Regions from separate parts of the Homo sapiens genome. Here all the other regions are linked to region 3. Evidence: fine-mapped expression QTL. A gene starts in region 3. Each other region holds a variant in brackets. All regions are shown on one strand. Distances are between the middles of the regions.

The links. PIP is the estimated chance that this variant, and not a neighbour inherited with it, causes the effect.
Region 1: its variant is fine-mapped to the expression of ACTR3 in whole blood (TOPMed, PIP above 0.99).
Region 2: its variant is fine-mapped to the expression of ACTR3 in whole blood (INTERVAL, PIP 0.94).

The regions. Positions count from the first base shown.
Region 1 is chr2:113,855,054-113,865,275 of GRCh38, forward strand. It overlaps ACTR3-AS1 (ACTR3 antisense RNA 1), which reads right to left. Exons shown (of 5, transcript NR_110174.1): 2 at 6,411-6,508. Among named protein-coding and RNA genes, the nearest start is that of ACTR3, 30 kb to the right of the region's middle. RefSeq lists a silencer at 6,946-6,995. The variant ACACACT/A (reference allele first, on the strand shown) is at 5,680.
Region 2 is chr2:113,918,453-113,928,674 of GRCh38, forward strand. It overlaps ACTR3 (actin related protein 3), which reads left to right. Exons shown (of 12, transcript NM_005721.5): 4 at 8,893-9,003. Among named protein-coding and RNA genes, the nearest start is that of ACTR3-AS1, 33 kb to the left of the region's middle. The variant G/T (reference allele first, on the strand shown) is at 4,898.
Region 3 is chr2:113,885,469-113,895,690 of GRCh38, forward strand. ACTR3 (actin related protein 3) reads left to right here and starts at 4,621. Exons shown (of 12, transcript NM_005721.5): 1 at 4,621-4,855. The coding sequence starts at 4,812. ACTR3-AS1 (ACTR3 antisense RNA 1) reads right to left here and starts at 5,524. Exons shown (of 5, transcript NR_110174.1): 1 at 5,425-5,524. It overlaps LOC124906071 (a long non-coding RNA gene), which reads right to left and starts at 4,299. Exons shown (of 3, transcript XR_007087205.1): 1 at 2,595-4,299. RefSeq lists enhancers at 3,992-4,301, 4,422-4,511, 4,544-5,199, 5,282-5,331, 5,382-5,561 and 2 more and silencers at 4,592-4,651, 4,892-5,151.

The DNA.
Region 1 (10,222 bases), 30 kb before region 3:
AATGTTGAATAAGCCTTGACAGTAGGTGGAAGTTTGGATGACCATGTTTGAGAAAGGAGGGTGATGAGGGGCAAGCGTCCTGTTGAGAAAGAGGAAGTTATGTGCTGCTTTGTGAGAGGGCATGGTTACTGATGTGCACGTGGCTACGTGAGAAAGGCCTCAAGCCCTGTGTTCTTTTAGGACCATTTAGGAATATTGGAGAGATGTTTCAAGACCCAGTGGTAGGAGATTGAGGCACCAGTGGTGGAAGCAGTCTCTGGTGAAGTGAAAACTGAGGACCTCTGCAAGGCCACACTCATTGGGTCAGGAGGGTTTTTCTCCACTAAGGAAGATAAAATCTTGTCCACAGATCAACCATGGATCCTGACAATGCAGCAGTCAGTAAAAAGGGCTCCTGCACCCACTGAGTAATGAGGCAGTGTTTCTCTCTCAGACTCACCCGGGGCACTGTCCTCTGAGCGGATGCATCCTCCCTCAGACTCACCCAGGGTGCTGTCCTCTGAGCGGATGCTTCTTCCTCTGCCACAGACTTGAGTAGCATCTGCAGTGTCCCTCTGCCTGACTTGCAGCTCGGGGATGTCCTGTGCTCAAAATTCCTCTTGCCAACTGAATGGACTCCCTCACCTTCCCTCTGACTGTTATCTTATTAAAAACCTCTTCCTGAACTGACCCCATCGAAGCCTTACCACTAATTTCTGCTGGTTTTGATCTAAATAGGGTCAGCCTCAAACACTATCCACAACTGCTCTGATTTCACCAAACTGAATTCTTATTAATGTGACTGAATAGGACCCTTTTTGAAAGAACACGTTTTTTAGGAATTGACTGAAAACAATTAATGGGTGGACAGCTTTCATGTGGTTTGAACTTAGGAGAATCTGAAGTGGTAGAACATTGACTAAATTATTAAAATTACATACTGAGGACATACAACAAGCAAAGTGCTATATCACATACTATGAAGATTCAGAAAGTGGAAGGTGTGGTTCATCTTCATCTCATCTTATTTGGTAGATAAAATAGAACATAAGAAATTAACAACACAAAACACACATAATAATTTAATATGGCAAAACAGCAGGCTGATTACCAATGAATGATAAGAATAAAAACTTCGATACAAGTTCTACGAGGACCAAATCACTGTGAGCTCTTTGGATCAGGAAACTTCCTGGATGAGAAGAAAAGAAATTCAAATAAAATTTTTTTTTAAAGAGACACAGTCTCACTGTGTTGCTCAGGCTGAAGGTGAACTCCTAGGCTCAAGCAGTCCTCCTGCCTCAGCCTCCTAAGTAGCCTGGGGTGGTAGGTGTGTGCCTTTGTGCCTGGTAAGAAGTAAATTTTTGATCTGGATTTTAAAGGCAATGCTATGGGCTGAATATTGCCCCCACCCCCAAATTTAGATGTTGAAGTCCTAACCCCTAGTATGCCAAATGTGACTGACTGTATTTTGTATATTTTAAGATAAAATCTGCTATGGTTTGAATTTGTCTCTTCAAAAATTTAAGTGTTGCCAATGTTATCGTATTAAGATGTGGGGCTTTTAAGAGGTGTTTAGGCCATGAGGGCTCCTTCCTCATGAATGGAATGAGGTGCCCTCATAAAAGGGCTTGATGAAGGAAGTTTGTCCCTTTTTGTCCTGCTGCCTTCTGCCTGATGAAGGGAGTTTGTCCCTTTTTGTCCTTCTGCCTTCTGCCTGATGAAGGAAGTTTGTCCCTTTTTGTCCTTCTGCCTTCTGCCATGTGAGGACACAGCATTCCTCCCCTCTGGAGGTCATGGCATTCAAGGCACCATCTTGGAAGCAGAGATAGGACCCTTACCAGAAAATGAACCTGCCTGTGCCTTGATCTTGGCCCAGTCTCCAGACTGCTAAAAATAAGTTTCTGGTTTTTTTTGTTTTGTTTTTTTTTAACAAATTATCCAGTCTGTGGTATTCTGTTATAGCAGCACAAACAAAGACAGGTTCTATAAAGGGATAATTAGGTTAAAATGAAGTCATTAGGGCGGGCCCTATCTAATATGACTGGTGTCCTCATGAAAAGCATAAATTAAGACAGACACACAGAGAGGAAAGACCCTATGAGGATACAGGGTGAAGATGGCCATGTACAAGCCAAAGAGAGGCCTCAAAAGAGATGAACCTTGTGGACACATTGGCCTTGGATTATAGCCTTCAGAATTGTGAGAACAACTTCTGTTGTGCAAGCCACCCAGTCTGTGGTATACTCCATTATAGCAGCCCTAGCAAAGCAATATGGGAAATACCTGGTAACATTTACTCTTTTGAATATAGAGAATTAACTGATTCTATAAGGGAAAGAGGAGATAAAGAGAGCAATAGAAGAGACTGGATAAAAACAAGAAGATGAATTTCAGGAAATAGTGAAGATAGCAATAAGAGGATAAGAAAAAGTGCACCAGGGATCCCCAACATGAACTTTTGCTGAGGAAAGAAAATCAAGATTACTTACTCCAACAGGGATACCTTTGTCTTGAGACAGTGGAGAGAACTTCATGGGCTCAATGAGAAAAAGGCAAGGAAGAAGCAGGAGAGAACTTTAGGGAAGTGAATGGAATGAAACTAAAAGGAAGTGAGAAGCACTATGGAGATACCTCAGCTACTTAAGACAGAATACAGGAAGGGGAAGTAACATGAATCCCAAGACTAAAGAAAGTAAAACATGAAGAATGTGAGGGAGTAAAAGGAGTTTGAAGGAAAACTGGAGGAGCTAAAAACGAACCATACACATATGGGCCAAGTGTTATATAAGCGAGAAACAGGTCACTGAGATAGCATTAGATCATTCGAGCTTGGAGTCACTGTTTACAGGGATCAGAAAAAAAAGGAAATAGGGTTTAATTTTAAGATAAGAAACAGGCTGGGCACGGTGGCTCACGCCTGTAATCCCAGCACTTTGGGAGGCTGAGGCGGGCAGATCATGAGGTCGGGAGTTCGAGACCAGCCTGACCGACATGGTAAAACCCCATCTCTACTAAAAATACAAAAATTAGCTGGGCGTGGTGGCATGTGCCTGTAATCCCAGCTACTCATAAGGCTGAGAATCATTTGAACCCGGGAGGCGGAGGTTGCAGTGAGCCGAGATCATGCCACTGCACTCCAGCCTGGGCGACAGAGCAAGACTCCATCTCAAAAAATAAAAATAAAAATAAAATAAGAAACAAAGTTATATGGGAAGACTGGACTTGGACATCAACTTTTTAAACCTTTCCTGGATCCTGTGAGCCAATAAATTCCTCTTTGTGTCTAAGTTAGTTCAAGTTAGGTTACTGCCCTTTAAAATCAACCAACCAAAGTAATAAAAACTGTCAATGGAGGAGGAGTGAGACATTTCTTTTTGGCTATGTTGAATAGATGAGATATAATTTACCCAAAGTGTAGTTTACAGACAAGCCAGTCACCACACAGCCCACTTCTGGGGGTAACTGCAGAGCCTACAGGTCCTACTAAGAAGGTGGCCATGTTCTATGCCACGTTCTCTGCCCCGCTTCCAGAACCCCTCAGCCCCCAGTTCTCCCAGCTCAGCTGACTAGAATCAGGAATGTGCTCATGATCCAAAGGCCATCAGTTTTTCTATGGGTTTATGGCCCACGAGGAGGTTTAGCATATAGAACCTCTGCTTCAATAGGGATACTACTGAGTCAAACAGACATTATTGCCTAGAAATTTCATGTGGAACTGACAAATTGTGAATAAGTTGAAGTTTTGAGTTATCAGAAAGGAGGAGTGAGCAGTTATGAACAAGCAGAAGCTATAGGTAAGCCAAAATCAAACGGTATTTATAGGAGAGTTGAAAAATTAGTAGAAATGGGAATGGTAGCAGTACAGTTGGAGGGATGCTGAGTCACTGCATTTATGGGATCCCTGAACTTGCCAAGGCAGCAAGAAGATGACTCAGATTGGTGACTCTTCCACTGGATGCTTCTAGTTCCTGAGTGACTTCCAGAGTCCAAGAGGCCCAGCTCGACAGCTTTTCTTGATATGCCAGAAGGTCCTTAAAGTCCTTATTTCCATAAATACCGTCACGATACCCCTGCTCCCATCACCCAGATGAACCGCTGTTCTTTGTAGTGAAATGGTCTTAACAAACATCTCAATAATAACATTGGCTAACACTTATTTAACATGGATTATGTGCCAAGCACTGAGATATTAATTTTACACATTGTACCTCACTTAATTTTCTCAACAATCCTATGAGGCAGGTACATATTATTCTTACCAATTTATGGATGGAGAAACCTAACTTAGAGAGGTTACCTTGCTTGTCCAAGTCACATCTTCTGTAGGGGAGCTAAGTCTGAAGCAGATCTGTATAACTCTAGAGTCCAAACATGTAATTATATTTAACTTCTCTCAAGTTACTCAGTTCCCTTGGGATCATTTCGGGTGTAGAGAGTGTAAGTAATTTAACTTTAAGTCATAAAATAAGAAATGTAGCAACCAGAACTAAAAGGGGAAAAAAGACTCATCATGAATATCACGTGTTATAAAATAATCATGTGTCTTGCTGAAACTTCATAAAAGAGAAGTTCTAGAAAGTTATCCCAAAGCAAGAAGTGGTGAATGGGAATTTATTACTAATTTTAGATACATAATATGTGCCAGATGTATTGTCCTATTTGAACAAATGGCTAAGGAAAATATGTATTCTTTGTAGTTTAATAGTGGCCTCAATTTTCCTAATTTGCTTCATAAAGTCTTACGCTCTTGACAGGGAATTCTCCTGCAAAGGGGTTTTTAGAAATCAACCATGGATGTAGAGAAGAGACTACTTTGCATAAAAAAAAGAGAAGTGAAACTGTAGAGTTTAAAAAAAAAAATGTGGCCAGGGACGGTGGCTCATGCCTATAATCCCAGCACTTTGGGAGGCTGAGACAGGTGGATCACCTGAGGTCAAGAGTTCAAGACTAGCCTGGCCAACATGGTGAAACCCTTTCTCTACGAAACGTACAAAAATTAGCTGTGTGTGGTGGCGTGCGCCTGTAGTCCCAGCTACTCAGGAGGCTGAGGCAGGAGAATTGTTTGAACCCAGGAGGTGGAGTTTTCAGTGAGCTGAGATTGTACCACTGCACTCCAGCCTGAGCAACAGAGCGAGACTCATCTCAAAATAAATAAATAAAATAAAAAATATATGTGTAAGAAAAATAAACTGTGAGATATGAAGTGTAAAATTTCAACTCTTCTAATTATGCTGAATTAATAACTAAAATTTATTTTTCAAAAACTGGAAAATTTAGCAGAGATGTAGCTATTTAAAAATGAATAATAATGTTGAATATGTGTTTGCTCCATGAGGGCATAGATTTTTGTATTTCCTTCACTACTGGATCCTTAGAAGCTGGAACAGACTCTGTTATATAGTAGATGTTCAATAAAAATCTGTTAAATAGAACAAATAAATGACTGAACTCAGAAAACTGAGATTATTCTCTGAATTGTATCTCTAAATGATATACGAGCAAGTCATTTAGCATATTTGGATGCAAGTTTTATTTATTTATTTGTGAGATTTTTGTGTTATAAAAGATACTGCAAGGAGAGGGAATTTGTTCTACTAGACATAAAACCGAACAGCATGGCACTGGTTTAGGAACAGGCAATAAGTCAAAGGAACAGACTAGAAAATGTAGAGATAGACTTTGTATACACACATACAC[ACACACT/A]CACACTCACACTCACACTTATTTAAACAACATCAGTATATAATATAAAATGAATTGTTTATGACATCAGGCCATTGATTAAGATAAATAATATTAATTCCCTTTCAAGCCATATACAAAGCTAAATTCCAGATAGATCAAGGACTTGAACATGTTTTAATAAAAAAGCAAAGTATAGTCGGGCACGGTGGCTCATGTATGTAATCCCAGCACCTTGGGAGGCCAAGGTGGGTGGATTTCTTGAGGCCAGGAGTTCGAGACCAGCCTGGCAAACAAGGCAAAACCCCATCTCTACTAAACATACAAAAATTAGCCGGGCATGGTGGCACACACCTGTAATCCCAGCTACTACTCAGGAGGCTGAGGAATGAGAATCACTTGAACTTGGGAGGTGGAGGTTGCAGTGAGCTGAGATTGCACCACTGCACTGCAGCCTGGGTGACAGAGCGAGACTCTGTCTCAAAAAAAGAAGCAAAGTATAAAACTACTAGGAACAAAATTCACAAATTCATAGAAATGTTTTTTATAACCTTACCGTGGTGTATCCTTTGTAAGAGTAATGCCAGGCTAGGCCCAGTGGCACATGCCTGTAATCCCAGCACTTTGGGAGGTTGAGGCAGGTAGATCGCTTGAGCCTAGGAGTTGGAGACCAGCCTGGGCAACATAGTGAGATCCTGTCTCTGTGAAAAAAAATAATAATAATAACTGGGTGTGGTGGTACATACCTGTGGTCCTAGCTACTTGGGAGGCTGAGGTAGGAGGATTCTTTGAGTCCAGGAGGCAGACGCTGCAGTGAGCCATGACTGCACCACTGCACTCTTATCTGGGTGACAAAAAGAGAACATGTCTCAAAACAATATTTTAAAAAAGAGTAACACCAAAGCCAAAACTATAAATAAAACAGATTACAGTATGAACAATTATGTGCATTAGAGTGCAGGAGAAAATAAAAAGTGTTATGGAACTAAGAGGAAAACTTGGACGATTGAAGATGGTACCATACATCCAGGCTAATGATGTTACTTTAAAATATTTCTTATGCCTGTCACAGCGGCTCACGCCTGTAATCCCAGCATTTTGGGAGGCTGAGGTGGGACAATTGCTTGAGCCCAGGTGTTCAAGACCAGCCTGAGCAACACAGTGAGAACCTGTCTCTATGAAAAATAAAAAATTAACCAGGCGTGGTGCCATGCACCTGTGGTCCCAGCTGCTCAGGAGGTTGAAGTGGGAGAGTCACTCGAACCCAGGAGGTTGAGGCTGCAGTGATCGCACCACTGTACTCCAGCATGGGCAACCGAGGGAGACCCTGTCTCAAAAATAAAATAAATAGAATATTTCTTAAATTATGAAACTTTTATCGCATTACCAAAACTTTAGGGAAATAGAAAATAGAAAAAACATCCCCTGAGTACAACACAGTGACTATCATTTTTGCTTATTCCCTTGCAATATTTTTCATAGGCATTTTTTTGCTAAGATATTTCACATGCCATAAAATTCACTCCTTTAGAGTGTACACTTTAGTGGATTTTAGTATATTCACAAAGATGTGTAAGCATCACCACTCTTTTAATTCCAAAACGTTTTCATCCCCCACCCCAGAAAACATGACGGCAACCCATTAGCAGTTACTGTTCACCCCCACTCCCTCAGCCAAAATCTACTTTCTGTCTCTGTTTGTCATAGGCATGTTTTAAACCCATTTGAATTATAGAAGCCTTCTTTGTTTCATTTAAGTGTCTATCAGAAACAAGCTTTCCATAAGTGAACAGTCTTCAACCTTTTGTACAGAAAATCAACTCTAAAATGTTTGCAGAGGGCAAAATATAAAAGGAAGAAAAACAGAAAGAAAAAGGGTCATTCCAGGATACCAATTAAAAGATGAAAATGTACACAATTTATAAGCAAGTATACAACACAGGTCAAGAAGTGAATAGGGATTCTTTGATGCTTTCACTTTCTTAGTAAAAAAAAAAAAAAAAAGAAGAAAAAGTAAATAGGGCCAGGAGCGGTGGTTCACGCCTGTAATCCTAGCACTTTGGGAGCCAAGGCAGGTGGATCACCTGAGGTCAGGAGTTCGAGACCAGCCTGGCCAATATGGTGAAACCTCATCTCTACTAAAAATACAAAAAATTAGCCAGGCATGGTGGTGGGCGCCTGTAATCCCAGCTACTCGGGAGGCTGTGGCAGGAGAATCCCTTGAACCCAGGAGGTGGAGGTTGCAGTGAGCCAAGATCGTGCCATTGCACTCCAGCCTGGGCAACAAGAGCGAAACTCCATCTCCAAGAAAAAAAAAAAAGTGAAACAGCACTAGGTCAGATTATTGAAGAAAGGAACATTTTCTGGGGTCTGATGGTTTTACTATTGTGTTATCCTCAAAAAAATTTTTTGACCAAGGCAGTACACGCACATATTTACAAAAAAGTCAACAATGCTGAAGAGCTTATTGTAAGAGGTAAGAAAGCTTTGCCAGTCCTTCCCACCCCCAACCCACCCCGTTACCTTCCACTCAAGCCCTAGAACAAGTCTGACTTCTTAACGGCTACAGTTTCAAAAATTCTTCTGGGTGGTTACTTCCCTATCTCTAAATAATACAGTTATATCACCACTTCTTTATTTATCAGACAGACAGGCTTTATCTGTGGACTTCCTTCCTATTCTGATAGATGAGAACTTAGTTCACTTACACCCTCCTCCCTCCCAATATGGATGTCTCATTATTTTTAGTTCCTCTATTGTAATTTTAGGTAACTTATTTACTTGAATTCCTCTTTGTAATTTTCTTAATATATGAATATTTGCTTCCTGTTCTGCTAACTGTAACTTGTATCTCTCAAGTCCCCACTTTGTGTGGATCTTCTTCCCTTCTACTTCCAAAATTCTGTCTGCATGTTGTTTTCTAGATTTCAATAGACTAAGTGAAAAAGTTCAAAGGACCAGCACAATGGAATATGAAGTTTTAACAAATGACATTCAAAAAACTGTGAAGTGGTTCACGCACATAAGCAAGAAACTAATATAGGAACACACATCCATCCATCATTCAGCTTTTTCAAATCTTAACATTATCACATATTTGCTTCCCTTTAAAAAGAGAAAGCATTGTCAGTCCACTGAGACCCCATGTACTATTGATTGTATTTCTCTTCTACCTCAATATTCATCATTATATCAAAATCGCTCTTATTAACTCAGCATTTACCATTCTACCACTTGATTTTATACTTTTGACACATACTTTGGCATCCATAAACATTGTATATTAGGCTGGGCATGATGGCTCACTCCTGTAATTATAGCATTTTGGGAAGCTGAGGCGGGTGGATAGCTTGTGCTCAGGAGTTTGAGACCAGCCTGGGCAACATGGTGAGACCCTATCTCTACCAAAAATACAAAAATTAGCTGGACATGGTGGTGCACACCTGTAATCCCAGCTACTCGGGAGGCTGAGGCAGGAAAATCACTTGAACTCGGGAAGTGGAAGTTGCAGTGAGCCGAGATCGTGCCACTGCACTCCAGCCTGGGTGACAGAGCGAGACTCTGTCTCAAAAAAAAAAAAAAAAAAAAAAAAAATATATATATATATATATATAATATACAATTTTGTATGTCACACTTAAAATTTAACATTTTTATTGACACAATTTCATTCATTAGACTTACCATTCCAAATATCATTTGATAGTGTGCCTATCATCCTAATTGCTTACTATTATAAATGATGCTGGTATAAGTACATTGGGTATTCTTAGCATAAATGGGGGAAGGGAACGCTAAGAAAAATTAGCAAATAAATTTTTAAAAGAAAAAAGATAAATGTGGGATATTTAGAATTTACCTTTGGATTCAATGGAACTGGGTTCTGTCTCTTATGCATTAATTATGTTTTAGCCTAACCTAATAGCTATGAAGTTCTGCTCACAGAATTTAAAAAGATCTGGAGACATTTATAAATGAGAAAAAGCATAGATGATAATAAAAAATATATGTGTACCTACAATTAATCAATGTTCATCACAGTTTTTTTTTTTTTTTTTTTTTAGAGGCAGGGTCTTGCTCTGTCACCCAGGCTGGAGTGCAGTGCTGTGATCATGGTTCACTGCAGCCTTGAACTCCTGGGCTCTGGCAATCCTCCTGCCTGAGCCTTCTGAGTAGCTGAGACTATAGATATGGGCCACCACACCTGGCTAATTTTTAATTTTTTTTAGTAGAGATGAAGTCTTGCTATGTTGACCAGGCTTGTGGGAGTTCAGTCAGGCTGGTGGAAAAAATTTTAAAGATAGTTATAAGAAATAGACACAAACCTTCTTGTAAGGCTGGAGAGGGTTTACATTGCTTCAGTAACAGATTTGGCTGAAAGCAGCCTAATCCTCTCTACCTTTAGCTGATAGCAAAAATGAAAATAACAAGGGAATGTGAGGAAGTTTATCTAAATAGCTTGCTTACTCATGTGGTCCTAAAACCAAACTTTGATCAACCTCAGGTGCATAATTGCTCTCTACTCAGGGGGTGAGCAATGTTAATTACCCTCTAGTGG
Region 2 (10,222 bases), 33 kb after region 3:
GACTCACTGCAGCCTTGAATATCCCAGGCTCAAGTGATCCTCCTACCTCAGCCTCCCAAGTAGCTTGGAATACAGATGCATGCCACTATGCCCAGCTAATTTTTTGTATTTTTGGTAGAGATGGAGTTTCATCATGTTGCCCAGGCTGGTCTTGAACTCCTGGGCTCAAGCAATTTGTCCCCTTGGCCTGCCAAAGTGCTGGGGTTATAGATGTGAGTTACCACGCCTGGGCCAGGATTGTTATAAGGCTTAAGGAGATGTGTATAAAGAAATTGTTATACTCTAGTGCTTTGAACATAATGGTTACTCAATATATGTTGGCTTATTTTACTTAGAAAAGATTACTCAGGCCACATAGACAATGAAGAGAAATTATTTGGGTAAGGTAAGCATGATTCTGGGAAAACCAGATAATTGACTATTGCTATAGTCTAAGCAAGAGATATTAGTGACGGCAGTGGGGATAGAAATGGAAATTGTGTAAGTGCAATCACACACACAGACATTTAACTTTTATTGTGGAAAACTTCACATGTCAAAGAACAGAAAATAATATAATGAACCCCCATGTGCCTATCATACAACTTTGGTGGTTATAATCTATGGACAATCTCATTTTGTCTATATAATCTTTCCACCCTCAACCTGCAATTATTTTAAAGTAAATTGTACATACTATTTCACTTAACAAATACTTAACTCTTAAATATGAAGGCTTTTAAAAAAGGTAAATATGACACCTTAATTTAGTATGCAGTTTCTTTATCTGATATCTAGTCATTGCTTAAATTTCTTTGATTATTTACTATATTGGTTATTCTGTTTGAATCAACATTAAAATGTGGTCTACTCATTGGATTTAGTTGATAAATCTCTTAAGTCTCTTTTTATCTATAGGTTATTTTCCCTGTGTGTTATGTTTCTTTTCTTTTTTGTTCTTGCCATTTATTTATGGAAAAAAACTTGAGATGTCTTGTAAAATTTCCTATATTCTAGGGATTCTGATTATTACATACTCATTGGGTCATTTAACATGGTACCCTACTTCCTATATTTACTTTTTTTTGTTGTAAATGGTAGTTAAATGTAAGTCTGATTAGATTTATGGGAGGTTTTTGTTTGTTTGTTTTGACAAGGAAAAAGTGGATAATTAAAGAGTAACAGGGCGTGATGAATGGGATATTGGTGATAAGCTAGATGTATCAATTGAGGGTAATTCCCAGCTCCGAGATAGTCTTATTTATCCCTTATCTGCTGAAATTGAGAATGTTAAAGGAAAAACATCTAAAAATTATTTTATTTTATTTTTAAGACAAGGTCTCAACTTTGTCACCTAGGTTGCAGTGCAGTGGCACAATCACAGCTCACTCACTGCAGCCTCAAACTTCTGGACTCAAGAGATTTTCACACTTCAGTCTCCTGAGTAGCTGGAACCACAGGCGTGTGCCACCATGCTTCGCTAATTTATTTTATTTTTATTTTTATTTTTGAGATGGAATCTTGCTCTGTCTCCCAGGCTGGAGTGCAGTGGCGTGATCTCACCTCACTGCATCCTCCACCTCCTGGGTTCAGGCGATTCTCCTGCTTCAGCCTCCTGAGTAGCTGGGATTACAGGCATGTGCCACCACGCCGGACTAATTTTTGTGTTTTTAGTAGAGATGGGGTTTCACCATTTGGCCAGCCTGGCCTTGAACTCCTGACTTCAGGTGATCTGCCCACCTTGGCCTCCCAAAGTGCTGGGATTACAGGTGTGAGCCACTGCGTCCGGCCTTTTATTTTATTTTTTATAGAGACAGGGTCTCCTTCTGTTGCCCATGCTCGTCTCAAACTCCTGGGCTCAAGTGACCCTCCCATGTTGGCCTCTCTCAAAGTGTGGGATTACAGGCATGAGCCACTGTGCCAGGCTTTTAAAAAAATTTTACTTGACATATAATAATTGTACATATTTATGGAGTATGTAGTGATATTTTGATATGTACAGTGTGTGGTGATCAAGTCAATGTAAGTAGCATATTCACCTCAAACACTTATTTTTTTGTGTTGAGAATATTCAGAATTCTCTGTTCTAACTATCTGAAAATATATAATAAATTAACTGTAGTCATCATATAGTGCTATAGAACACTAGAACTTATTCTTGCTATCCAGCTGTAATTTTGTATCCTTTATTCAAGCTCTCCCTATTCCCTTCTTTCCCCTACCCTTTCCAGCCTCTAGTAACCACTTTTCTACTCTCTACTTACATGAAGTCAATTTTTTTAGCTTTTGCACATGAATGAGAACATGCAATTTTTTATCTTTTAGTCCCTGGCTTATTTCACTTAATGTCCTTTGGGCTCATCTGTGTTGCCAGGAATGACAGGATTTCACTCTTTTTTTATGGTTGAATAGTATTGTGCATATATACTACACATATCCGTATGGACACTTAGGTTAATTTCATATTTTGGCTATTGTGAAGAGTACTGCAATAAACATGAGGGTGCAGGTATCTTTGATATAGTAATTTATTTTCCTTTGGGTATATACCCAATAGTAGGATGGCTGGATCATATGGTAGTTCTATTTGTGGTTTTTTGAGGAGCCTCTGTACTATGCTTTATAGTGGCTTTACCTATTAACATTCCCTCCACAGTATATATGAGTTCCCTTTTCTGCACATCCTTGCCAGCATTTGTGATTTTTTTTGTCTTTTGGGTAATAGCCATTCTAACTATGGTGAGACGGTATTTCTTTCTGGTTTTGATTTGCATTTTCCTGATGATTAGTCATGTTGGACGTTTTTTTCATGTATTTGTTGGCCGTTGATGTGACTTCTTTTGAGAAATGTCTATTTAGATTATTTGCCCTTTTAAAAAAATCAGTGTTTTTTTTTTTTTTTCTTGCTGTTGAATTGAATTCCTTATATATTCTGGATGTTAATCCTCTGTCAGATGTACAGTTTGCGGGCATTTTGACCCATTCCATAACTTGTATTTTCCCTCTGTTGATGGTTTTCCTCACAGAAGCATTTTAATTTAATATAATCCCATTTGTCTATTTTTGCTTTTGTTGCCTGTGCTTCTGAGGTCTTATTTGTAAAATCTTTTCCCGTACCAATGTTGTGAGAGGTTTCCCCTAAGTTTTCTTCTAGTACTTTTATAGTTTTGGGTCTTAGATTTAAATCTTTAATTCATTTTGAGTTGATTTTTGTATAAGGTGAGAGCTAGAGGTCTTGTTTCATAAGGAGAAACACTTTTGACTGGGTAGTGTAGAGAGGAGAAAATAAGTTTAATTTTGAACACATTGTGTTTGAGGTACTTGTGAGACGTCTGAGATTTTGTTAGAGTCAAATATGTGGATTTTGGAGGTAAGAAACAAGGCAGAGCTGGAGACAGAGATTCAGAAAGTGTCAGTTACCTTAGACGGGTTGACATTACCTAGGGGAACATATCACAGGGGAAGAGAACTAAGACAGAGCAGTGTGCCAGTTAGGTTTGAGTAGAGGAGGAAAAGTCTGCGAAAGAGACTGAGAATGCATGGGTAGATATGTAGAGGTAAACACTGTAGAATGGTGCTGAGATGAGCTAGAGCCCATAGATAATTTGCTGTCTTTCGCTACAAGGTGGTGATTTGTAACCTGAATGAGAATAGTTTTAGAAGAGTAGTTGGGCTAGATGAAAGTAGGCTTTTGAGTGATAGGCCAGGAAAAAAGTAACAGTAAGAGTACTGTTCATTGAGTTTCAATTGTGATTGGGAGGGAGAGAGAGATGAAGAGACACATTTCAACGTTAAGATGGAAGACATGTCTGAATGCTAATATGAAAGAACTATTAGAGATTAAAGTAACAGGAAAGATAAGGTATAATCAAGGTCTCTGAAAAAGCTGGAGGGATGAGATCCAGAACACAGATGACTGAATTGACATGCGGAATATCTTACATTATAATGGAAGTAAATGAGAAAAAAGGCTAAGTATGGAATCCATTTTACAGATTTGAATTCCTGACTGTTGGCTTCTGCTGCTTCTGCGAAATATGTGGTGGCATCATCTGCTGGTCATGGATGTGGGGAGAAGGTGAAATCTTAGCGGTAGGGGCGGCATTGACACTCGTCATTGTGAAGAGTAAAGAGGAACAGAGTAGAAGAGTAAAGGCTTGCCAGGCAAGGTTAGGTCCATTTGAGAATAATGACTATGAATTCTTAGTCTTTAGCACCCTAGTGCAAATGCTTCTGCGGTATAATCAGCATTCTGGATATAGGCAAGTTTATGTTAGGGATATATGCTGGGTTGGATTTTGGTAGACAGGATGAAAAAAGAACATGTGAAATAAAGGTGATGGGTCAAAATCTAGACTGTGTATATTGATGGCTAGGGAATAATTAAAGCAACCAGTGGACCAAAAGTCTTAATTGGTGTTCAGAAGAGATCTCTTGAGGTGGTTGAGTATGCTAGAATAATAAGAGGTTGTGATCAGAGAAGGGTATACCTGCATTTCAGCGATTGAGAGGTGATAGTGATGATGATATAAGATCTATACTGTGGCCAAAATGGAAAAGAGATACCACTGAAAGTGATGAAGTCAGTCAGTCGAGAGGCCAGAGTTCCTTTCCACTGATTCTGTCCACTCATTTTAAACGCATTTTTAAGTCTTCTAAGTGCTACTAACAAACCAGAACAAAACTTCTCTCAATCTTTATTCCTACCTTCTGTCCTCAGCAATTTAGCTATTTTTCTCTTTCCTTTTAAAACGACACTTCTTAGTGAGTCTCAAGATATTTGATATGCTCTTTGTTAAATCCAATTATATGTAACAGTTTTCATCCTTCTTGATTTGTCTTTCTTTTGCAGGATTACTCTAATGGTTATCTTCCTAACATGGAATATTTGTTTGTTTGTTTGTTTGTTTGTTTGTTT[G/T]TTTTTGAGACGGAGCCTGGCTCTGTCGCCCAGGCTAGAGTGCAGTGGCGCGATCTCAGCTCACTGCAGCCTCGACTTCGGGTTCATGCCATTCTCCTGCCTCAGCCTCCCAAGTAGTTGGGACTACAGGCGCCCACCACCGTGCCCGGCTAATTTTTTATATTTTTAGTAGAGATGGGGTTTCACCGTGTTAGCCAGGATGGTCTCAATCTCCTGACCTCGTGATCTGCCTGCCTCGGCCTCCCAAAGTGCTGGGATTACAGGCATGAGCCACTGTGCCCGGCCTGTTTTGTTTGTTTTTATTTGTTGTTTCTATTGTCACTGATTTCTCCTTTACCCACTACTCAAACGTTGGTTTCTCTAGGCACTGCTTTCAGTTCTCCTTTTTTTTTTTTTTCTCTTCTCATAAAATGGGGTGACTCAATGTTTTATTCTTTCATTAAAGACTTTCTCTAGGTGATCTCCTCCATTCCTTTGTCTGCAACCACAGACCAGATCTCTACTTTCAGTTCCTTGACTACATCTTCACCTACCTATTTCCTGGCTCTTGAGTTTTAGTATATCTAAAACAAAACGTATTATATATACTCCACTCTTGTTTATTCCAAGATCAGACAAAACACAATTTTTATGTTTTGATTAATGGATCTGGTCCATCCTAACTTCAAAGCTGGAAACCTGTTGGCATCTTCTGACTTTTTTCTCTTTTTTTTTTTTTTTTTGAGACAGGTGTCTTGCCCTGTTGCCCATGTTGGAATGCAGTGGTGAGATCTTGGCTCACTGCAAGACCCTCCACAATCACTTTGACCCTCTGGGCTCAAGTGATTCTTCCACCTCAGCCTCCTGAGTAGCGGGGACTACAGGTGTGTGCCACCACACCTGGCTAATTAAAAATTTTTTTTTTTTTTGTAGAGACAGGGTCTCACTACGTTGCCTAGGCTGGTCTCAAACTCCTGGGCTCAAGCCATCCTCTCACCTTGGCCTCCCAAAGTGCTGGGATTATAGGTATGAGCCACCATGCCCAGCCCTTTCTTATTCTTATTGACTGAGAAATCTTCAATGTGGCCCCTTGTCGTCCATACCACTATTGGTACTCTTGTTCTCACTTGGTTCTGTTAAGCTTCATTTGAGCTTTCCCAATGCTGCTATAATAGTCTTCCTAAAAATTAAAGCTGTTCTTATTCCCCTGCTTAAAAATTTCTCTGCTGTTTTATTTCTTATAGAATAAAACCTAAATAAAAGGAAAATTTTTGAGAATCTAGTCCCTTTGATCTAGAACTGGTATATCTCTCTACGCACCTTCAAATCTTTTGGCACATAAATTTCTCATTGATAACTTCAGTTTTGTTTTTGTATACCATGCAGTGTTTGTCTTTCTATACATCTTTTTCTGTTCTCCACAAGTTCCTCCATACCTCTCATTCCCCTGCCAAAAAAAAAGCCAGAAAGCAGAACTGAGTTAAGACCCGGCTTAGATATGACCTCCTCAGCGAAACCTTTTCTCTCACAAAACAAGGTGGTCATCTTATTCAAGGAACTATTTATTTATTTATTTATTTATTTATTTGACAGAGTGTTACTCTGTTGCCCAGGCTGGAGTGGAGTGATGTGATCTTGGCCTACTGCAACCTCTGACTCCTGGGTTCAAGAGATTCTCCTGCCTCAGCCTCCCCAGTAGCTGGGATTATAGGTGCCTGCCACCATGCCTGACTGATTTTTGTATTTTCAGTGGAGATGGGGCTTCACCATATTGGCCAGGCTGGTCTTGAACTCCTGACCTCAAATGATCCACCCACCTCAACCTCCCAAAGTGCTGGGATTACAGGCGTGAGCCATCGTGCCACCTTTTTTTTTTTTTTTTTTGGAGACAGAGTCTTACTCTATCGCCCAGGCTGGAGTGCAATGGAGTGATCTTGGCTCACTGCAACCTCCGCCTCCTGGGTTCAAGTGATTCTCTTGTCTCAGCCTCCCGAGTAGCTGGGATTATAGGCATGCACCACCACGCCTGGCTAATTTTTGTATTTTTAGTGGAGACGGGGTTTCACCATGTTGGCCAGGCTGGTCTCAAACTCCTGACCTCAGGTGATCTGCCTGCCTTGGCCTCCCAAAGTGCTGGGATTACAGGCATGAGCCACCACGCCCAGTCGGAACTTTATTTTTTTTAAAAACCTGTAGTGTAATATTTGTTCGTATATATTTCTTTTGCTAGACTGAGTTTTTTGTATGCTGGATGTCTGTGTCCTTAGCATTTGTGCCAGTGGCTTACAGTAGGTACACAGTAATAATTGATGAATAAATAATACTTAAAACATTTGAATTTGTAAACTTCTAATAATGTTAAAAATTGAATGATAAAGTAAACTGCAATTTTTTCCTTCCTTAAAGCAAACTGGGGAGTAGAAGTCCTTTTATAAGTATAATGCCTTAAAAAGTAGTGTGGAAACTAGAGTAAGAAGTAGATGTTAGGGATTGATACTGCAAGGTATTTATTTCTTTGTTCATTAATTTGTTTAACTTTAGGTATTGAATGTGTATTATGTTCATGGAATTATATTCTGTTGCAGAGGTTCACAAACTTTCTCAGTGCCGTTAGGGTCTCAGTAACGTTTTTCACTGTGCCACCTAGATCGAAAGAAATGTCTGATAGTTCTGTTTATTAAATACCTAGGTCCAGGCAACTTAGTAGCCACTTGAAAAAAATAAGACACTTAAATTGGAAACGTTATTTCACTGCTGAGTAATCACATTTCTGTTAGGATGCTTAGGCATCGCTCAGCTTCTCAAACCTGGAATCAGATGGGACATTGCCACCCTGATTTCTTGTTTTATATCGATGTTATTTTATGTGATAACTTGGTTTTTATGCCAGCAACTGCTGACAAACCAACTTCTGTAAGAAATAATGTCATTGAAAGGAATATATAATAGTTTGATTTATTGTTGAAACTGAATTACTGTGACTTGTAGATCACGCAGTGTCCAACTGATGTTGAGTAACACTATATTTCCCTGGAAAATTTAAAATAACTTTGCGGCGCCCTTGTGAATTTATGGTAGTACACTGGGGTGCTGTCTCAGTTCATTTTCTGTTGCTATAATGAATACTTGAGACTGAGTAATTTATAAAGAAAAGAGGTTTATTTTGGCTTGTGGTTCTGGAGGTGAGGAAGTCCAAGATGAGTTGGCCACATCTGATCAACCTCTGGTAAGGACCTCATGCTGCTTCATAACATGTTGGGGAATGGAAGAGGAAAGGGACAAAATACAAGGGACAACTTCACTTTGTAACAGCCTGCCTTCAACCCTCTGGAGAATTAACTCAGTCCTGCTGAGAACTGCATTAATTCCTCTAATGACCTGATGACCTCTTAAAGGCCCTACCACCTCTCGATACTATAACACTGGGAATTAAATTTTAACATGAGTTTTGGTGGGAACACACCACATCCAAATCATAGTAGGTATCTTAGCACACAGTTTTGGAAGCATGACTCTTAAACATTTATAAAACTTTTCTTATAACATTTTATGTGCTTGATTCTTACAATTATTCTAGGTATGTACTTACAGGTGCACTTTTTATATTCGGCATACAACAAATACTTGTTAATGGCCTAATGCATTAAAAATTAAGGAAATTGTGATAAAGTATAGTTTTTTAGGCTTAATTTTTGTAGGCTAACTTATCCTTTTATTACAAAACTTTTAAAATCTAGAAAGACTAGTACAATGGTCTTCCATGTAGATTTAACAGTTTTTAACATTTTGACATATTCACTTTGTTTTTATTGAACCATCCATCTGACAATGCGTTATTGAACTAATTTATCTTTAAATCCTTAAGTACACATCTTTTAAGGATGTTCTATAGTATCACACCTATGAATATATCCTCATCTAATATCCACTAATGATCTGATATTTCCTTTTTTGTATTTTTATTTGTTTTTTATATTAATAAGATTTAATTTGTATTTCCCTTTTTGTTTTAATAGTGGCCAATCCGCCATGGTATAGTTGAAGATTGGGACTTAATGGAAAGGTTTATGGAGCAAGTGATCTTTAAATATTTAAGGGCAGAACCTGAAGACCATTATTTTCTTTTGGTAAGTTACAAGTTATAATTTCACTGAGGAAATTTTTGAATACACTTAATGAGAACATTTTCATCATACTTCTTTGGTATACTTTGGTTATTAAATTGTCATATGTCTAAATGACTTTGTAATAAAGCTGTATCATCTTTAAGACCATCTAGTTATGGCTACAGGAGAATAGTAGTATGTCAAAGCACCACATGTTAAACACTTAAGAAGTGCTTTTGGTAGTTAATGTCTAATCTTTATGATAGAAACAGTAAGTAATGTTCAGAAAAATGTTGGAAACCTGTGGCACTTTTTTGCTTAAAAAACAATAGTCTGATTATTATATCATTGGTATTTCTTCATAACAAAAATACAATATAATCTAACTTTTTATTAAACATCTTTTTATTAAAGCAGTGCATGTTCATAACTTAAAAAATCAAATGACTTTATAAGATTTAAAACAACAAAATAACACTTTCCTTTCTTACCTCTCCCAACCTTTGGTTCATATTCCCCGGAGGCAAACATTTTCAATTTTAACAAAGTTTGCCCTGCTAGTAATCTTTTAACATGTTTCTTTTATTTAACATTTTTTTTTTATTTCTTCTGTCTTTAAGAATATTATACATTATTTACCAACTTCCTAATAGGAAAAATGAGAATTTCCCTTTTTACCTTTTCTCTCCCTCAACACAAAATACCTATCCTTTCCCACTCCTCGCATTGTAGTTACATCACAATTTTTGGTTAAATCAATATTCTGTGTCTTTCGGTGATTGTGATGGACTATAAAGTTGAAAGAACCATACTATGGACACTCATACACCCACAATCTAGATTCGATGATTAACCTTAACATTTGGCTATAATTGCTTCATGACGTCTATCCATCTTTCACTTCATTTTAGTTTTTAAATCACTTCAAAGTGAGTTGCAAATGGGAGTCATTTGACCCCTAAATACTTTAGCACGTATTTCATCAACTAGAGCTATCATTTGTGTATGGTTATTCTTTTCATATAAAATTTACATATCATAAAATCACCGGTCTGCACCATTCAGTGGATTTTGACCAGGGTTTGGCAAACTTTCTAAGGGAGCAGATAGCAAATATTTTTGGCTTTGCAGGGGTTATAGTCCCTGAGGAAACTTAATGAGAACTTTTTATACAATGGTCCCTGTCACAGCTACTCAGCTGTGCTGTTGTAGCATGTTAGCAGCCATAGACAATACTTAA
Region 3 (10,222 bases):
TAATAGGCTTCTTACCAAATTCAAGCTTTACAACAACCCTATAGGTTAAATATTCCTGTGAATTTTATAGATGAAGAAACAGAGTAAGTGAAAGAGTTCATACTCAATTCAAGTCTCTTGAGTCTAAAATCAGTGCTCTCTCTACATAAGAAGTTAGTTGCTAAGATCACACAACTTGAGAAGAGAGAAGACAGTTTTCACAGTCCCTCCCCTCTGACCACTAGGCTGCTTGGGGTACTTTTACAACTTACCTGCTCTGAATTAAGGCTCTCTGTGAATCTGATTCATCTGCCAATTTGCAAACAGTCAGCCCTGTAGTACGTACCTAAGTTGATTTTTAAAATACTATTTCTCATCTTAAAATAATGGAAATTGAGTGACATAAATTTCCTGGACACTTTTTAAGATCCAAAGACAATTTGCTAATTTGTCGTTACAATTAAAGAGCCCCCCAAAAGGCGTAAGAACTGGATTTTGACTTGGACTTCTGTTCCTTAGTTTCTTTAACATATTGGGGGCCGGGAGTGGTGGCTCACACCTGTAATCCCAGCACTTTGGGAGGCCGAGGCGGGCAGATCACGAGGTCAGGAGATTGAGACCATCCTGGCTAACACAGTGAAACCCCGTCTCTACAAAAAATACAAAAAAAAAAAAAAAAAATTAGCCGGGTATGGTGGCGGGCGCCTGTAGTCCCAGCTACTCAGGAGGCTGAGGTAGGAGAATGGCATGAACCCAGGAGGCAGAGCTTGCAGTGAGCCGAGATCGCACTACACTGCACTCCAGCCTGGGCGACAGAGCAAGATTCCATCTCAAAAAAAAAAAGAAAAAGATATTGGGAAAACTCACTTAAACTCTATGGGCTTCTGTACCACTAAGGCTTCTCAAATTTGATGCAAGTAATGGGAACTTGCTGTGGCTAACTTGAGCCACAGGAGAAGGATACTGCAAGACTCACAAATGCTTGAAAGTTTCGGAACAGGTTTGGAAATGGGTAAGAACCAAGGACCGGGTTGACCTGAACTGAAAGGAAATTGAGGTGCTATTAGGGACAAATATGAAATGAAGGATGAACTGTCTCTGACATCCTTTGCTTCTGTGTTTGGAGATGAGTAAGCAGGGAGTGGGTGCATATGCAAACAGGGTGGTCAGAAATGCTTTGGCCGGATGTGTGACTGAAGGCTATGTGCAGCTGAGGAAGGCTGGGCCACCACAGTAGCAGAGAGGCTGACCAATTTGGCATGCAGCAAGCAGGAAGTAGAAGGGATCTTAAGCAAGCAAAGTGTTTGGGTAGACAAGATTATGAGGAATGAGCACCAATGACATTTCCAACAAGCACTGAAAGCTTCCAAATGCTTCTAACAGTTACTGCCTGTACAAACACAGGACAGTCTTGACTATGTGAGACTGTGACAGTTTCCTCATGCCTATGAAATGAGAGACAGTACTTAGCACTGACATGAGCTTCATATTTGAAGGCAGCAAACTACTGAACCACATGTAGCTTCCGAAATCAAAAGATGCAAACTGGCAGACCACAGGTCAGATATGACATGCAGAAAAAAATTAGTTACTATCTTAGCCTAGTTTGTGCTGCTTACAGAATATCAGAGACTGGGTACTTTATAGAGAACACAAATTATTTTTCATAGTTTTAGAGGCTGGGAAGTCCAAGATCAAAGGGCCATCATCTCGTGAAGGCGTCCCTGCTGTGTCAAAACATGGTGGAAGGCATCACATGGGCAAAAGAGAGAGAGGGAAGCGGGGGCAAACTCCTTTTTATCAGGCACCCAGTCCTGTGATTCATTCATGAAGACAGTGTCCTCCTGGCCTAATCACCTCTTAAAGCTCCCACCTCTCAGCACTGTTGCACTGGAAATTATATTTCTCACACATGAACTTTGGGGAACACATTCAAACCATTACAGTTACCAAAGATAAAAATGCAGATTTCAGATTTCTCTTGGGGAAGAAAAAAGGCTCTGGCAATACCAGGGCTGTATTTCCACATGGCAACAGTTGTCTGTTGCCTTCTGTTGGGTTGTGGGCTCTCACATTGCCATACCCTCCTCATGGCCCCCTTCACTCATAACAGTACCTGCCTAGACCTCGAAGCACTAGTTTCCAACCCTGCTTGAGTTAACTACTTCCATGACAACTGTGCAAGGCCAGAGTGTGGGCAGCTACCTTGAGGGCCACCGGCATGGGCTGCCCAAGTGACCGAGGGCACTAACCTCTGCTCTCGAAACTTCTTTGGTAGGATCTCTTCACTCCTGACTTACTACTTGTAACTGCTGGAAACAACCATTTATTCTACCCCTACTAAACCACATCTGTCTTTTCTGTCAGAGCCAATCTTCAAGCATATGCTTCCTCAAAAGACTTTAATTACCAGGTAGTAGAAGCGGCAGCAAAGAGTCCCCATCTAGCATCTTCTAAAATGTAGTGGAGAAACCAACGACAACGAATCTGAGACAACCAGTTGTTTGACTTCTCTGAAAACAACCTCTAAAAAAAGCCTTCTCTCGTGAATAGCTGCAGACATGCTGGGCACTAATTGATGATGATGCCCTTTAGTGAGTCTCCTCTGCACATACCTGATTCCATTTGGATGCTGGCCCTCACATACTTCTATCTGCGAACTCCGGAACACAGAATATCATACAATGTATGATTCAATCTGGACTCTGCTGGAGCCATTCTCTACAAAGCAGACACAACTTTTTCTTGCCTAAATCCTTTCAAGTTGCTTTATTTTTATTTTTAAACTAATTACCATAAATCTAATTTATCAAGCTGCTTTTAAGATAAACTTTAAAATGCTTAGAGCAGTCTACAAATTCTTGCACTGTTTCACTCTTCCTTATCTCTCAGTCTTCATCTCCCATTGCATCTTCTCTGACTCTTTCATATGGATCTTCTTTCAATTTGTGGAAGAAGCCAAGCTTGTTCCTGCCTCAGGTCCTTGACACTTGCTGTTCACTCTCCTGGGAGACTCTTCCCCCCATCTTAGCTTTTAAATACCAGCTGGTCAGACTCCTTACCTGCCTTCCACCTTCCTCTCATTCTCCCACTCCTCGCCTTCATTTCTCAGAGTCCTCCGCTCTCTTCTTTCTATTGCTCTTAACACAATTTGTCTGTTTTCCGCTAATCTGTAAACTCTACAAGAGCACTTAACTATTTTGCATCCCACCGAATATTCGGAGTCAGCACAGACCCCGTCATAATAGAGTAGGTAAGCAATGCTTACCTGTCAAATGAATGAATGAAACACCCGATTCATCCCCCAAGCCAGCTTAATACATTAGATGATCTTATGGACTGAATAAGACATCCCTCCTTTTAAAGAATATTTTTGTTTTAGCTTCACATCAGCAAACCCCGAACGGTTCATCCTAAGATAAGCCTGGTAGAGAGGAAAGATACTAACCTTCTAGGGTCCTAAAGTGGAACTAGGAACTTATTAGATATGCACATTCTCAGGCATTATTTCCGATAGCCCAGTCAGAGAATTCTGGGGGTATGGCCCAGCAATCTGTTTTAACAAACCTTTCAGGTAATTCTGATACACACTAAAGTTTGAAAGGTTTCTTTAAGGCTTTCCAGTTTTCTTTTCTTTTTTGGAGGGATGGGGGGGGGTCTCCCCATGTTGCCCAGGCTGGTCTCGAACTCCTAGCCTCAAGCTATCCTATCCTCCCACCTCGGCCTTCCAAAGCATTGAAATTACAGGCATGACCCACTGCGGCTCGCCTCCGTTTCTAACTTAAAAAAATTTTCTTTGGAGGGGAGCCTTAATCCTTTCTATTATCCTGCTAGTAGAATCTTACTACTCCTGAGGGTAATCTTTGTCATAATCCAAAAGCCTTGAATAAAGGCCTATTTGTATAGTTATGCAGAATATATTCCTGGGAGGTTTGCCTTCCTAGGAGCACAGGTCGGCCCTGGGAGGTGGGGGTTGGGGGGCAGGGCTGCATTCTAAAGTCCTGTAACAACGCACAAGTACAACTGAATAGAACTCGGAACAAAGGCATCAGGGCCACGGTGCAAGTCTTTGTTCATCCGTTCCCCGACTGCTCACCCTGTCTGATACCGCTCTTTTCCACCCAGAAAAGCAGCCACTCAAGTTTTAAGAATGGATGTATGCCGCGGACGTTTTCGATTAGGCCGTTTTCTCTCAGGCACTGGAGGATATTCGTGGCTGCAGGAGGCGCTTCCACCCTTTCCTCAACCTAGCAAAGAAGTAACTGAAACTAACCCAAGGGTTACAACCGAAAAGCCCCTTCCAGCTTCAGAAGCAGAACTGGAAGCTCGGATAGACTTCTCCGCCTCTACACTCCTGGAAAACCCGCAGTGGATTTCACCAACTTCAGGATCGGAGCCCAGGCAGGCGAACGTACCTTATTGCGCATGCTCGCTAGCCCCTCCCGCTCGGAGCGGAAGGGGGAGCGCTGGGGGCCTGGGCCTGGCCTGGCCGGGGCGTCGGCACCGGCGGCCATCTTGGCTTCCCGGGGAAAGGCGGCGTGAGGGGAAGAAGTTGTAGGGTGGGGGCAGGAGTGAGGAGGAGGGAAGAGAGAGGGGGAGGAGGCCGCGGCGGGGCAGGGCGGGGACTGCCTGCCTGCCTGGGTTGCGGAAGTGATAGCCGCCGACCGAGCCTGCTGCTTTCTTGCTACTGCTTCGGCTTCCCGGCTACCCCCCGGACGGTGAAGGCGGCCCAGCTGTGGATGGTCAGATAGCCCTTGTCTCCCGCCGCCAATCTCTGGCCCCTAGCAGCACGGAGCAGACGGCGGCAGCAGCAGCAGCAGGCGAGGAGGAAGATGGCGGGACGGCTGCCGGCCTGTGTGGTGGACTGTGGCACGGGGTAAGGGGGCTTACGGGCGGGGGTGGGGAAACTGAGGCGGAGGAAGGAAGATGGCGGGGGAGGGAGGAGGCCGGGAAATGAATGGTGCGGCGAGGTGCCGCCGCCGGCTGTCAGTCCTAGACCCGCCGGCCAGCGAGGGGTGGGGCCCGCAGCCAGGGCCTCGCGGGTCCCCTCGTTTCTCCCTCCTGGGACTGGGGCGGGGGCGCGGGCCCGAGATTCAACCCCCAACCCTCCCAGCGGCTTTCTCCGCGCGACCCCTCCCGGCCCTTCCCCCACTACGGTGGGCAGCGCCGCCCAAAGGGCGCTGGGGACGGTCGTCTTGGGGGTGGTCCCCGGGCCCGACCCATCCGGCTTTCCTTTCCCTCCGCGCCCGTTTTTGCCAGTCGGTTTGGGGACCCAGGGGCCGAGCTCGGGGACTGGCCTGGCAGGGGAGCTAGAAAAGAGAAGCGCTCCTGGTAGGTTTGACAAGATCGCTGTGACAACATTCTGCCCAGGGTGTGGGTGGGGAAAGGGAAGAATCGGACTCTGAAAATGGGAACCTACAGTGGGGCTTTCATTTGACCACCCACCTTCTCCTTTCGACTCCTGGTCATTTCCATCTCCCTCTGCGTTTTAACCGGTGAACCAAGTCACATTTTAATTCGAGGGAGAAAGATGTCATGTGTTACTTCTGTAGCCTCAAAAAAGTCCCCCAGTGAGCAAGCGCGCTGCAACTTCCTTAGTTTTGTCAAAGCCGCTTCCTGCTTTCAGTCTTTTATACCCTTATAAGGTAGTTTTTAGTTTCCAACCTGAGCACATCTTACTAGAACTTTTAAGCAGGTTTTAAAGAGACTGAATTACCGGTGCTTGGTGTCCATTTATATGACTTAAAAAAATGTACTTATGTTTCATGGAGTGGGGGAAAGGAAGCACCCTGGAAAATAAACTAATTTAAGTTGTATTCGTTCATTCTGTGATGGTATCTTGAAGGAAGCAGGAAGGTATAGAGGTATATAGGAGGGTGTTTAAGTTGCAAATAGTTACTCGTAGATATGTAGGGTAGTTTGCGAAAATGTAGAGTGGCTTTAAAGTGTGGTCGTTCATTTTGTATTAATAGACGTTTTAGAGAGTTGTACCACACTCATAACTGCATAGAGAATAGACTACCCTTATTTTTATGTAGAATCACTGCTTCAGGATGACATATAGGAAAGTGGTTTTTTTTTCTGTGCTGATGACATCTCTCCAATTCCCAGAACACTCCCAGTTTTTTTTTTTTGAGGGGGAAGTCAGTAAGAGGTGGACTGTCAGGCTTTTTTTTTTATTATTAATTATAATTATTGATTTCATTATTGTTACTTAAAAGATTGTGTGTCCTTCACTCTTTATGTGAAATTTCTTTAATCTTCATTCTCATAACTAGCTAGTGTGGCAGTTTCTAAAATCCCAGTTAGGTAGAGAGAAACCACCAACTTCTTAATATTCTCCTAGGAAAACACTAGCCTTGGAACTTCTATGTATTTTTTTGATGAACACTTTATTTAAAAGTTTTTCCTTAATTCAGTCTCATTTCTCTGAACCAATAATTTTTTTTATTTCTCCCTTCTTAGTCTAATTGGTGAGTATTTTTATGTCTAGGTTCAGTTTTAAAATTAGATTTGGCCTGAGTCAGTAGGATAGGACTTTTCAAATGTGTTTTGTTAAAGTGACGAATATTGCTACATAATTAATGCTTTAGAAATTACTGCGTTTTCAAAAAAATAGTGTAAATAATTGTGGCCCTGAGAAATAATATGGTAACATCTCAAGTAGTATGTTACTTTTCTAATCTCCATTTTCCCCCTTTTGAAATAGTTTCGAATTAGTATACAAGATGTTTCATTGAGATAAACTGTCCTTAAGTGACCTCCTTTCCTAAAGGGCAACCTTGAATTTAAAACATGCTGAATGACCAGTAGGATCGGGAAGAGGGGTTCAATTTAACCTAGGCTATTTCTGTTTTAAAATTACGATTATCACAATAGTGTATTTTTAAGTTATTACATTGGTTTCTCCAATAAGGAGAGGTTATTAACTGCACATTGATGATTTGAATGGAACTGATTAGGAGTCCCCTTGCCACCTCACTCTCTTTTACCATTTGTCACAATCTGAAATTCCCCCTTTAGAGTTTCAGTTATTTTGGTTCTCAAAAGCCTTTTTGGTCTTACAAGTTTCCAGTGGTGCCTCCTGGGAAGTTACACCTTCAGCTTTATTTGCACATGGAGGATAAGTCCTTGAGGTTGAGGACCCTGAGATAAACATCTCTAAGTATGGCCTTAACAGGGAGCTTTTACATTTCAAAATTCTGTGGTCCCCGAATGCAAATTGTGCACCTGTAATTTGTCTAATTTTTTTTATGCTTTAGAGAATGCATTCAGCTCTGAGGTCTCTAAATTACAATTACTCACTTAGTTTAAGTAAAAAGTTATAACCTGAATCAGGTTGCTCATTTCATTCATTATATAAATTAGGGGAAAGGTGGCTGAAAAAAAGTGGCCATCTGTAAAACTTGATCGTCTTAGATAGGAAAGCTGTTAAGAGTTAGGAAACTTGAAACTTAAGCCCAAAACTTTTAGGGATCGTCCAGCAAAACTCAACATATGAATCACCTAGATTCAGGTCATAAAAGAGAATACTTATTTTGAAAAGAATTTGAAAAGAAATGCTTCATTCACATTGATACCCTTATCTACACACTTTTTTGGTCTGTATTGGAAAGCATTGTAAAATACAGTTGGGGCACATAGATTCCCATTGGTGGCTTGAAAACTAAATAACAGAACTCAAACCTGCTATTAGTGGTGAGAAAAGCATTTTCTTTAAAAGGCATTCACAAACATTTTTTAAAAAAACATTGTAACACTTGTATGATCATCCTAAGGTTTTTTTTTTTCTGGGCGGTGGAAGGGATCGTTTTTTAAATGTGTTTTTTGCTTTTTGTTTTTTTGTTTGTTTGTTTGTTTGTTTTGAGATGGAGTCTTGCCCTGTCGCTGGGCTGGAGTGCAGTGGCACGATCTCGGCTCACTGCAACCTCCACCTCCCAGGTTCAAGCTATTCTCCTGCCTCAGCCTCCCGAGTAGCTGGGACTACAGGCACATGCCACCACACCCAGTTAATTTTTCTCTTTTTAGTAGAGATGGGGTTTCACCATGTTGACCAGGATGGTCTCCATCTCCTGACCTCGTGATCCACCCGCCTCAACCTCCCAAAGTGCTGGGATTACAGGTGTGAGCCACCGCGCCCAGCCTTAAAGGTTTTTTTTAAATGCATGTTTTTACTCAAGTTTCTCCATCATTCAAGCCAAATGAGGGCGCTCCTTATTAACTCCTTGTTATATCGTAGCTTGGTTACAGAGCTGCATTGTGAATTTCCTTTTCCCTTTTATGTCTTTTTTTTTCCCCTGGTAAATAAAATATTGGTAAATTAGTTCCACTGATTATGATAGCAGAGGTTAATATAGCCCTATGGTCAAAGTCTTGGATATATTCATATCTGGAGCAGATTAAGGAATTTTGCTAACTGACTTCAACTTCTTAGCAATCTTAAAATGTAAGCTTAAATATCTTGTAGGTGTCAGTGAAAGAGGAGTATGTTCATCTTGTGGCCACAATTCAGCAATTAGTGCAGATAAGAATGATCTTGTTTGAAGAGCAGTGGGGAAAAGCTGGGTAAATGAAGGAAGGTATATGTGGGAAGTTCATGTTTCTTCCATGAATTCTGTGCGTATTGTTTAATAATAATGCTGTTTCTTTTTTTTTTTTTGAGATGGAGTTTTGCTCTCATCGCCCAGGCTGGAGTGCAGTGGCATGATCTTGGCTCACTGCAACCTCCTTCTGCCTCCTGGGTTCAGGTGATTTTCTGCCTCAGCCTCCCAAGTAGCTGGGATTATAGGCGCCCACTACCACGCCCAGCTAAATTTTGTATTTTTAGTAGAGACAGAGTTTCACCATGTTGGCCAGGCTGTTGTTGAACTCCTGACCTCAGGTGATCCACCCACCTCATCCTCCCAGAGTGCTGGGATTACAGACATGAGCCACTGCACCGGCTTAATAATGCTATTTCTTTAGCCATCTCCAAAGGCAGAAATATTCACAATAGCTTCTTAACCAAAAAGCACTCATTGAAATTCTTATTCCTTGATGAGTCATGCTTTGCATGCTGTTTGAAGTAAGTACAACAGACATGCTCCTAGTGAGAAGTCAGACTCTTACTTAGACTTAGCGAAAGACTCTCCCTCCTTTCCTGCCTGCCAATTTTGTGTTGAAATATTGACTTTGGATTGCAAATACTATATTGCGGTGAACGAACTTTCAGGCTTATTGTAAAACACAGTTCAGAATTTTAGGCACAGAACGGAAAGGTCCTGTGGAGGACCTGCTGGCCATGCTTTCTGTGACAGCTATTTTTTAACCTAATTTTATAAGTGAAAAAACAGAATGAGAGAATTTAAATTACCTTTTTGATGCCGTCTACCTGGCAGGTGGTTCGATCTGCTATTTGGACCTGAGTTCTGTATTTAAGTCCTGTGTTCTTTCTGTTAACACTCCGGGGACTCCTGACTGCCTTTTCAGAACTTTATGTGTTGCTTCATTGTTGTTAGTAAAGTTAACTGTATTTCTGTTTAAAGAACTCTTACAAAAAAAAATCTCAGCCTTATGAATTTGATTCACCTAATTAGAGAAAACCCTCTGTGTAATCTTTACTTGGTTTAGGTTCCCCCCCCCCACCCCCCTGCCGATATGTGAATGCCTAGACTATTTCCTTGTTACTTTGCTTAAATTTAATCTCTAGAAAAAAATTACTCTCTAGGTTGTGTTTCTCAGGAAATAATAATAGCTAGCATTTATCGAGAATTGTATGTCAGCCCCTGTGCTAAATGCTTTATATTATCTCATTAACTTTCACAACAACCTGGAAAGTATTATCTTTGTTTTATAGGCTAGAAAATTTAGTCTTAAGAGAGGTTAAGCTACTTACCCAAGATACTGTAGCAAGTAAGTATGGCAGAGCCACTACACTAGATCTTCCTTCCGTAGAAGATGAACGTTTGACATGGCTTGGTGCATAGTAGGAATTCAAATCTTTGTTGTATGAATGAATGAACAAGAATTAGGAGTATGGTTTTTAAAAAAACTGTGCATCAGAAACACCCCATACCCAGTGACTCAGAATCTCAAGGGTTGGACTATGAATATTCATTTACATAGGCTTCCTAGATGATTCTTCAGCAGCCCATTCAAGGGCTAACTTTGCAGAAATTCTGAAACCTGGTATTGGCGGTGGAGTTGGAGCAGAAGAGATAAGTTAGGAAAAGATTGGTTTTTTCCTTTCTTTTTACGTTTCTTC